Regions from separate parts of the Homo sapiens genome. Here region 1 is linked to region 2. Evidence: fine-mapped expression QTL. A gene starts in region 2. The other region holds a variant in brackets. All regions are shown on one strand. Distances are between the middles of the regions.

What was found. PIP is the estimated chance that this variant, and not a neighbour inherited with it, causes the effect.
Region 1: its variant is the best candidate, but not a certain one, in a credible set for the expression of LRFN5 in spleen (GTEx, PIP 0.70).

What each region holds. Positions count from the first base shown.
Region 1 is chr14:41,529,532-41,533,924 of GRCh38, reverse strand. No RefSeq gene overlaps it. Among named protein-coding and RNA genes, the nearest start is that of LRFN5-DT, 62 kb to the left of the region's middle. The variant T/C (reference allele first, on the strand shown) is at 1,962.
Region 2 is chr14:41,605,033-41,609,425 of GRCh38, reverse strand. It overlaps LRFN5 (leucine rich repeat and fibronectin type III domain containing 5), which reads right to left and starts at 2,550. Exons shown (of 6, transcript NM_152447.5): 1 at 864-2,550.

The DNA.
Region 1 (4,393 bases), 76 kb after region 2:
AAACTCAAGAAAATTATACATTAACAAAATGTTAACATCAATAAAGATAAAATATATAAAGAAAACAGAAAGAAATTCTAAACTGAAAAGTACAATAAATGAAATAAAAATTTTACTTGAGTAATTCAAAGGCATATGTAAACAGGCAAAAGAAGAATCAGTAAACTTGAAGATAGAACAATAAAAATTGCCAGTCTAAGGAACAAAAACAAACATAAAAACATTGAGGAAAAGTGAACATAGCAAAAGGTGTTTGTGGGACAACATCTTGCAGACCAACATTTGCATTATGGGAGTTCCAAGAGGGGAAGAGAAAGAGAAAAGGGCAGAGAAAGTATTTGAATAAATAATGACCCCAACTCCCCAAACTCAATGAAAGACATGAATATAAACATCCAAATATGACAATGAACTTCAAGAAGAATAATTAGAAAAAGATCCACACTAGAGAAATTACACTCAAACTGTCAAACCCCACAGAGTTAATTTTGAAAGGAGCAAGAGATAAGTGAATCATTACATATACCAGAACCTCACTAAAATTATCTGCAAAATTCTCTTCAGAAATTTTGGAGACCACAAGGCAGTGGGATGATTTATTTTGGATATTAAAAGAAAAAAATGTCAACTAAGAATCCAATATCTGGCAATATTGTTCTTCAAAAGTGAGAAAAAAATTAAGACATGACCAGATAAACAAAAGCTGAGATATCTCCTTATTATTACACATATTCTGCAAAAAATGCTAATGATAGTCATGCAGGTTGAGATGAAAGAACACTTTAGCATAACTAGAAGCAATCAGGAGAAGTAAAGATCTTAGCCAAATAAATATATGAATAATTATAAAAGCTAGTATTATTGTAACAAGGGTGTGTAACTCCAGTTTTTGTTTTCTGCATGATTTAAGCAATTAATACATTTTTCAAAACCCAGACACTTATTAGTTTCAAAGATAGTATTATTGTAACTTTAGGTGGTAGCTTTACATTTGTATTTTACATAACTTAGAAGTTTAATACATTTTAAAATTATTAGCTTATGTTTTTGGACACAATTTATAAAGGTATAATTTTGTGACATCAACAATTGACATGGGCTGAAACAGAGTTATCAAAGGAATAGAGTTTTGGTATGTTATCAAAGTTAGGCTTGTAATTATTCAAATTAGAGCATTATACCTTTCAGCTGTTAAATACCCATGAAAACCACAAAGAAAATATCTTAAAAATAGGTACAAAATGAAATAAGAAAGGAATTTAAATGCTTAACTACAAAAAAAAATCAGATAAGCACACAAATAAATAAAACGATAATGCAGGAAATGAGGAAAATAACAGCATATGGAAAACAAATACCAAAAGGACATAAGTAAGTTATTAACAATTACTTAAAATGTAAATGGCTTAAACATTTCAATCAAAAGCCTGAGATTAATAGAGGGTGTAAAAACACGTGGCCCAACTATATGCTGTCTATAAGAGAGTCACTTTAGATTCAAAGACACATGTAGGTTGAAAGTATAAGGATGGAAAAGGATATTCCATAGAAAAAATAGTAAGCAAATGAGAGGAGGAGCACCTATATTAATATTAGACAAAATAAACTTTAAATAAATAAATTTTACACAAAAGACAACTAAAGACATCTATATTAATAAAAGTTTTAATGCAGCAAGAAGACATAACAATTACAGACAATTACATTTATAGTAATAGATCATAGAAATATAAAGTAAACATTGATGAAATTGAAGATAGAAATAAAAGTTCTACAATAATAGTTGGAGACTTCAATACTCCACTCTCAATAATAGAACAGCCAGACAGAAGATAAGTAAGAAAATAGAGTACTTGTACAACACAACAGATTTAACAGATCTATAAGAACACTCTATCCAATAAAAATAGAATATACATTTTTCCCAAGTGTACAGCTGACATTTCCCAGGATAGATCATA[T/C]GTTATTCCACAAATCACATCTCAGTATATTTAAAATAATACATATCTTGCATAGTATCTTCTCCAAACAAACTGGGATGGGTTTAGAAATCAACAGTAGGAAAAAACTGAAAGATTCATAATTTTTAAAACATTAAATAATATACTCTTAAACAAGTGAATCAAAGAAGAAATCATGAGGTAACTATGAAATACTTAGAAACAAAAGAAAATGAAAACATAACATGCCAAAGCATAACATACAAAAATTGTGGGACACAGCAAAAATAGTGTTAAATCAATATTTATAACTTTAAGTGCTTACATTAAAAAGCAAAAATGATCTCAAATGAACAATCTAACTTTAAATGTAAGACACTAGAAAATAAATGAAACTAAACCCAAAGCTATCAGAAGGAAAATAATAGTAGGTATCAGAACAGAGATTTTTAAAAAAATATAGAATATAAAATAATAGAGAAAACCAATGACACTGAAAGTTGGTGCTTTGTGAAAACCAACAAAATTGATGTCTTAATAGACATATAATTGGTATGATGATTAAATCAGCAATCAAAAATTTATTGGCAATGAAAAGCCCTGGACCTGTTTGTTTCACCAGTGAGTTCTACAAAATAAAGAATGAATACCAATGCTCCTCAAACTTTCCTAATAATTTTGTAAGGAAATAACGTACTCCAACTCATTCTATTAGTCTAGCATTACCCTGACACCAAAGACAGACACACACAGTTAAAGAGAAGAAAGCTATAGAACAATTTATGTTATAAATACTGATGTAAGGATCTTCATCAAAATACTCAAAAACCAAATTCAGCAACATATTAAAAGAATTATAAACCATGACCAAGTGGAATTTGTTCCTGGAATTCAAGTATAGTTCAACACATAAAAGTCATCAATATAATATATGACTTAACAGAATGAAGGAAAAAAGAACATATGATCATCTTGATAGATGCAGAAAAACAATTTCTCGGAATTCAACCCACTTTCAAAAAAAAAAAAAACTCAACAATCTAGGAATAGAAAGTAATTACCTTTACATAGTGAAATATATATATATTAAAAAAACAGTGAACCTCATCCTTAATGGTGAAAGATTGAAAGCTTTTCTTTTAGACTAAAGAACAAGGCTAGGATGCTTACTTTCTCCATTTCTATTCAACTTAGTACTAGAAATTGGAGTCAGATAAAATAAGGCAGAAAAAATCCAAATTGTAAGGCAAAACAAAATTATTTATTTTCATAGATAACAAGTTACATATGTAGAAAAAAATCTAGATTCCCCTCAAATCAGAACTAATAAAGGATTTTAACAAAGTAGCAGGATAGAGTTGACACAGAAACATCTGTTATGTTTCCATATACTAACAATAAATAATCTGAAAAGAAAATTTAGAAAATGATTCCATTTACAATTGCATCAAGAAGAATAAAATACTTAGAAATTAATTTGACCAAGGAAGTAAAATACTGTATAATTAAAACTTCAAAATATTGCTGAAAATATTAAAGAAGGCATAAACAAATTAAAAGATATCCATGTTCATGGATTGGAAGCCTCAGTATTGTTAAGATGTCAGTATTATCAAAAGCTATCTACAGATTTAATGCAGTCCCAATCAAAAATCACAATGACATGTTTTTTAGAATTAGACAAGCCCATACTAAAATATATATGGAATCTCAAGGGATCCCAAATAGCTAAAACAATCCTGAAAAGGAATAACAAAGCTAGAGGATTCACACTACCAAGCTGATTTCAAAACTCACTATAAAGCAATAGTAATGAAAACAGTGTGGTACTAGCATAAAAAGAGACATACAGACCTATGAAATAGAGTCTAGAAATAAACCTTAAAATATATGTCTAAATGATTTTCCACAAGGGTGCCAAGACCATTTGAAGAGGAAGAGTCAATCTTTACAAAAAATGCTGCTGGGAAAACATATAGTATGTTCGCATAAAAAAGAATAAAGTTGGACCTTACGTAACACCATATATAAAAATGAACTCAATGATCTATGATCTAAATGTAAAACCTGTAACTAAAAATCTCTTAGAATAAAATATAGGACAGAAAATTCAAAACATTTAGTCTTGCAATTATTTTTTGAATATGACACCAAAGGCACAGAAAACAAAATAAAAAGTAGATAAATTGACCTAAGGAATTTTTTTTTAAAATATGCATCAAAACACACTGCCAACACAGTGAAAAGGCAACCCACAGAATGGGAGAAAATGCTTGGAAATTATATATCTGACAGCGTATTATTATACAGAATATACAGAGAACTCTTGAAACTAAACAACAACAAAAAGCAACCCAATTAATATTGTTCAACAAATTGTGCAATGTTCAAAGTCACTAAAAATTAGGGAACTACATATCAAAACTACAATTAGATACCACATCACACTCATT
Region 2 (4,393 bases):
CAGTCGCAAATCCAACCTGCTCCTTGTAAATCAAGGCACCGGAAAAAAAAAATTCAAAATATCTATTATACAGGGATAAAACAAACAAACAAACAACAACAACAAAAAAACGCGCAAAGGAGTTGCGTGTCCGTGACGGGGACAATACAGCTGGAGAGAATGTTGGGTGGTGGCTATCGTTTTAGCCTGGTTCTGCTAGATATAAAAATGACTTCTTTCATGGATTTATTCTGCTACATAAAAGCACGTCCTGGCAGTTAAACACCATATCTCAAGACACACAGCCGTGACAATATGTATTCCCTTTCATGCAAACCAAGTTCCAAGAAAACTCCATTTCGAGTCAAAGTCTCCAGATGCGTAATTTACAACTACTAAAAAGATCTGGCAAGCTCCTCCACAACAAGGAAAGGAAAACAACCTGGCACCAGAGGTAGAAAAGGGTAGAAAAGATCTTTGGTTTAAATGATGGGTGGAAACCAAACACCCACTCACACTTCACAATCTGGAAAGGGTTGGGTACCAAATGGTCCGTGGCAACCACAGCCTGAAGGAAACACAGAATTTTGATCTCTGGCATCTTCAGACAGGTTCCACACGCCTAGCTCTCAAAAAATATCCTCAGGGTGGAGCACATCCATATTCTCAAAGCTTTCACTACTAGATTAAGTGCTTAGGTATAGATTTATATTTCACCTACTAGAAATCGTATTACAAAATCACAGAGCAGGCGCCCTTGGATACCCAACCCTTCCCAATGATTTTCAAAACATTAATAAGTAAAGTAGCCTGCAATGCAGATAAGACACTAGAAACAAGATCAAAAGGAAATTGGGTGAGGCGAGTAATCGTTGGTTTGTTACCTGGTGCCTCTAAGGGAAAAGACGGTCGTAGGAAGACTTTCTGCCTGCAGGTACAATCCCGGCAAGGTGGCTCCAGGTGGCTTTCACAGTCGTACGCGGGTCTCGCTCGTCACTTCGCTGCCCTTTGCCATAGCTCAGCACCCGCATCGTAGGGAATCGGAAAGGCGGCTCCTGCCACTGCCGCCGCTGCCCGCAGGTCGCTCTGGGTGGGGGAATCGCTGCAATCGCCCCATGAAACCCGCGGCTCCGCGCCCGGGGAGCGGGCAGAGGCAGGGCGGCCGCGCACGCACACACAGACACACGCTCACACTCACACACACTCGCACCCGGGCGCGCGCGCACTTGCACTCACACTCGCACACGCACACCCAGCACTGCACGGGGAGGAAGCAGCACGGAGGGAACCGGTCCTTCTCACGATTGGCTTCGAAGCCCACCGGACCGCGGGCAGCAAAGAGAGCGTTCTCGCATAGCCCTTTAATCACGTTTCCTTCAAGTTCTCCTCCAACCCGAATCCACGTAATTCAAGAGCTGGTGACATTTTGGTGGGGAGGAGGGAGCCGAGAAAGGGCTGAGGAAGAGTCGGGGATTTTGTTAAGCAGTTTAATAAGCAATCCTCATTACCTTATTTGTTTTGTTTTGTTTTGTATAGCAAACCAGTTCGAAGGGCTGAACTTTTGGCTTCAAATGCTGTGAACCAAAACGTAAATATCCTTCTGGCCAAGAGAAGAAGGTGTAGATACACGGAAACAAGAGGGCTGCAAGACACTCTCTTGACCTTGTGATGTACCTGGAAGCAGGTTAATATTGGCGCTTTCCAAGCTTCTGGGTAAAGCGATCCACACACCTGGGTCCACAGCCCAGCAGCCGCTCCAAATCCAGCCAGGAAAATGGGTCTGGGCGTCCTCAGAGCTCTGCAAGAACCCGGGCATGAAGGGGCATCGCCGAGTTAACACATTTGCTTCTGGGCAGTTGGATAAAAGACAGTCAAATGCATCAGATAGGCGCGCGCGTACACACGCGCGCGCACACACACACGCAGCTAGCTGGAAAGCGGCTTACAAAACACTAGAGACATGCCAAGATGACTTGAAAAGGTAGCCAACATCCAGGATCTTTCCGGAACACAGAAGGGCCAGCAGGGAGGTTATCAAAGTCTTCTCAAGTCTTTCAATTCTTCCTCTCTCCTCTGAGTGTGTGTGTGTCTGTCTAGGTTTCGTTGGTCTGCCCCACCCCCGTCCAGTTGCGCTTTTTTTTTCTGATATAACGGACCGTGCAAAATGGATTATATGGGTGGGCTGTGTTCACAGCCAGAGCTCCCCAAAGTCAAGGATCCTAAGGGAGCAGCCAGCTGCTAAACAATTCACATCCTCAAGGGAAGAAGGAAAAACACGCTCAAACACACGCAAACACGCGCACACACATACATAGTCCTCCGTTCGGGCAGCTCTGCACACGCTCACCGCCTCCCTGCGCGCCGCGGAACACAGCGCCCCGCCCGCTGGCCACCGCGCTGGGGCGAGTCCGCAGTTCAGGCGCGAGGCAAGCAGCCGAGGTCCGGGGCTGCGGCCGCGGCCGGGGCGGACCCGGGAGCTGGGCTTCCCAAAGCGTCGCGTGTGGGCAACGGCGGCCTCCTGGCCGCGTGGAACTGAGCCCTGCGCTGCAGCATGAAGGCGGCGGCGGCGGCGGCGGCGGGCGCGCGGCCGTGAGCTCAGCCCGCGCTGCAGTGACGGGAGCGGCCGTGTCGGCCAGACCCCGAGAGTCCGTGAGACCCCGGCCGGGGCCGCTCCGCTGCTGTCAGCCCTCGGGCCTCCCAGCCAGACTGGTTCTGAACCGATTTATCAGGGGGTTGCGGAGAGGGCCGGCGAAGCGCCAGGAAATCCCCAGGCTGAGGAGGCGCGGGGGCGTTGCAGGAAGGGGGAAGGGAAAAGGCAGAAAACCTGGAGAATGAAAGCGAACTTCCAGGGGCGTCCCCAGCCTCCTGCAAAAGGGCAATTTGCTGATCGCCCACTTCCTCGCAGTTACGGGATAGAGAGAATCATCACTGAGTCAAGCTTCGGCTGCTTAGGGCGGTGGGAAAAGTCATTATCTATAATAACCCGCCGGAAATTTTGAGGAGAGCTACTGACTTGGGGGTTTCAGTCATCTGAGGCTGGCTTCCGCTGTCCCCTTAGTTGTGGGTGGTGATTTGCTTACTAATCAGATGGGAGCGGATTCTGAAAAGAACATTTATATTTGGGAATCAACTCAGCTCAGCATCAGACATTACGAATACTGCAGTTGGTCACATTTTACTATGTGAAGGGCAGAAAGGGAGCCCAACAGTCTTCATAAGCCAGACCTAGTCTCTAAGGTCACCGGCACAGACGCAGGGTCTAAAGCAGGAAAGAGGTGCGACTGGAAAGGAGGTTAGACAGGGCCCTGCGGGAATGGATCTGCCCGGAGCCCTCGCCTGGTTTTGCTTGAGACTCCGACAAGACTCCCAATGCTTCTCTCCCCGACCCTATCCCCACTCCCTCCATCCTGGAAAAGCCAGTGAGCAAAGTTAACTCTTTCTTCTAAGAAACCCTGAGTGAAATCTTGCTCTTCCTTTCTGCTAGAGTCCTGAAACCCTTTCGCTTCTCATTGTGGGTTCACCAGCACGTGGTCTTCGGACACTGAGAGCACCTTCGCTCTCAGCTGTGATCCTAGCTAGCCCAGACACCAGTCTGTACCCAAAGGAAGAGTAGGAAGTTGCAAAGGGAAGCTGGCTAACAAGGGCTTCTTCTGCCCTACTTGGCAAAGGCCCATACGGGTGGCCTCCGTGGATATGGAGCTCCTTCATTTTGTTCCAAAAAGAGCTCTGCCAGGCTTTACCATTGCCCTGGAGGTGCACAGGCGCCCGTATACTCGAGCACAACCATGGGCTCACCCCAAGCGCGCACACCTGCACCCACGCGTAAGGAAGAACCACACAGCTATCTCTGTCGGGGAAGAACACGAGGAGTGAAGTGCTTTAGGTGGAAACTCCTCACATCTCCTTTCTTTCCTCTGCTCCCCCTCTCTGCCCCTGGTACTCCGGATCCAATCCTTGGCTTAGGAATCCACTCAAGCCACGTCTGGCTGCTTTGTTCCAGAGGAGCGCAGCTCCGAGACTGCACTTCAGCGGTGCAGCCTCCCTCCAGGTCGGCGAGCGGCGCCAGATCCGGGACTTCAGGGTCTCCGCGGGAGCTTAGGAGGCTCAGGATCTGAGTTGGAGAGCTGGAAGGCCAAACTCCGAGCCGCTGAGGGACTGCGCAGGAAGACCACAGAAATAAACCAAAGGGACACCGCGGACAGATGTACCAGAGGACACCACTGAAGTCCAGGAGAATCTCCACCAAAACCATCAGCGTTTTCCTTGTAGCTTTCTGTCCCTCGAAGTGGAAAGTTGAGGTTTCTGAGAAGTCCACGGAGAGAACCTGCAGCAAACTGAAGCCACAGACTCCGAAGGCATAGGGAGAAAAAATGCTTCCATCCCCCTTTCACTTTAAACTTGATCGCTTCTGGGA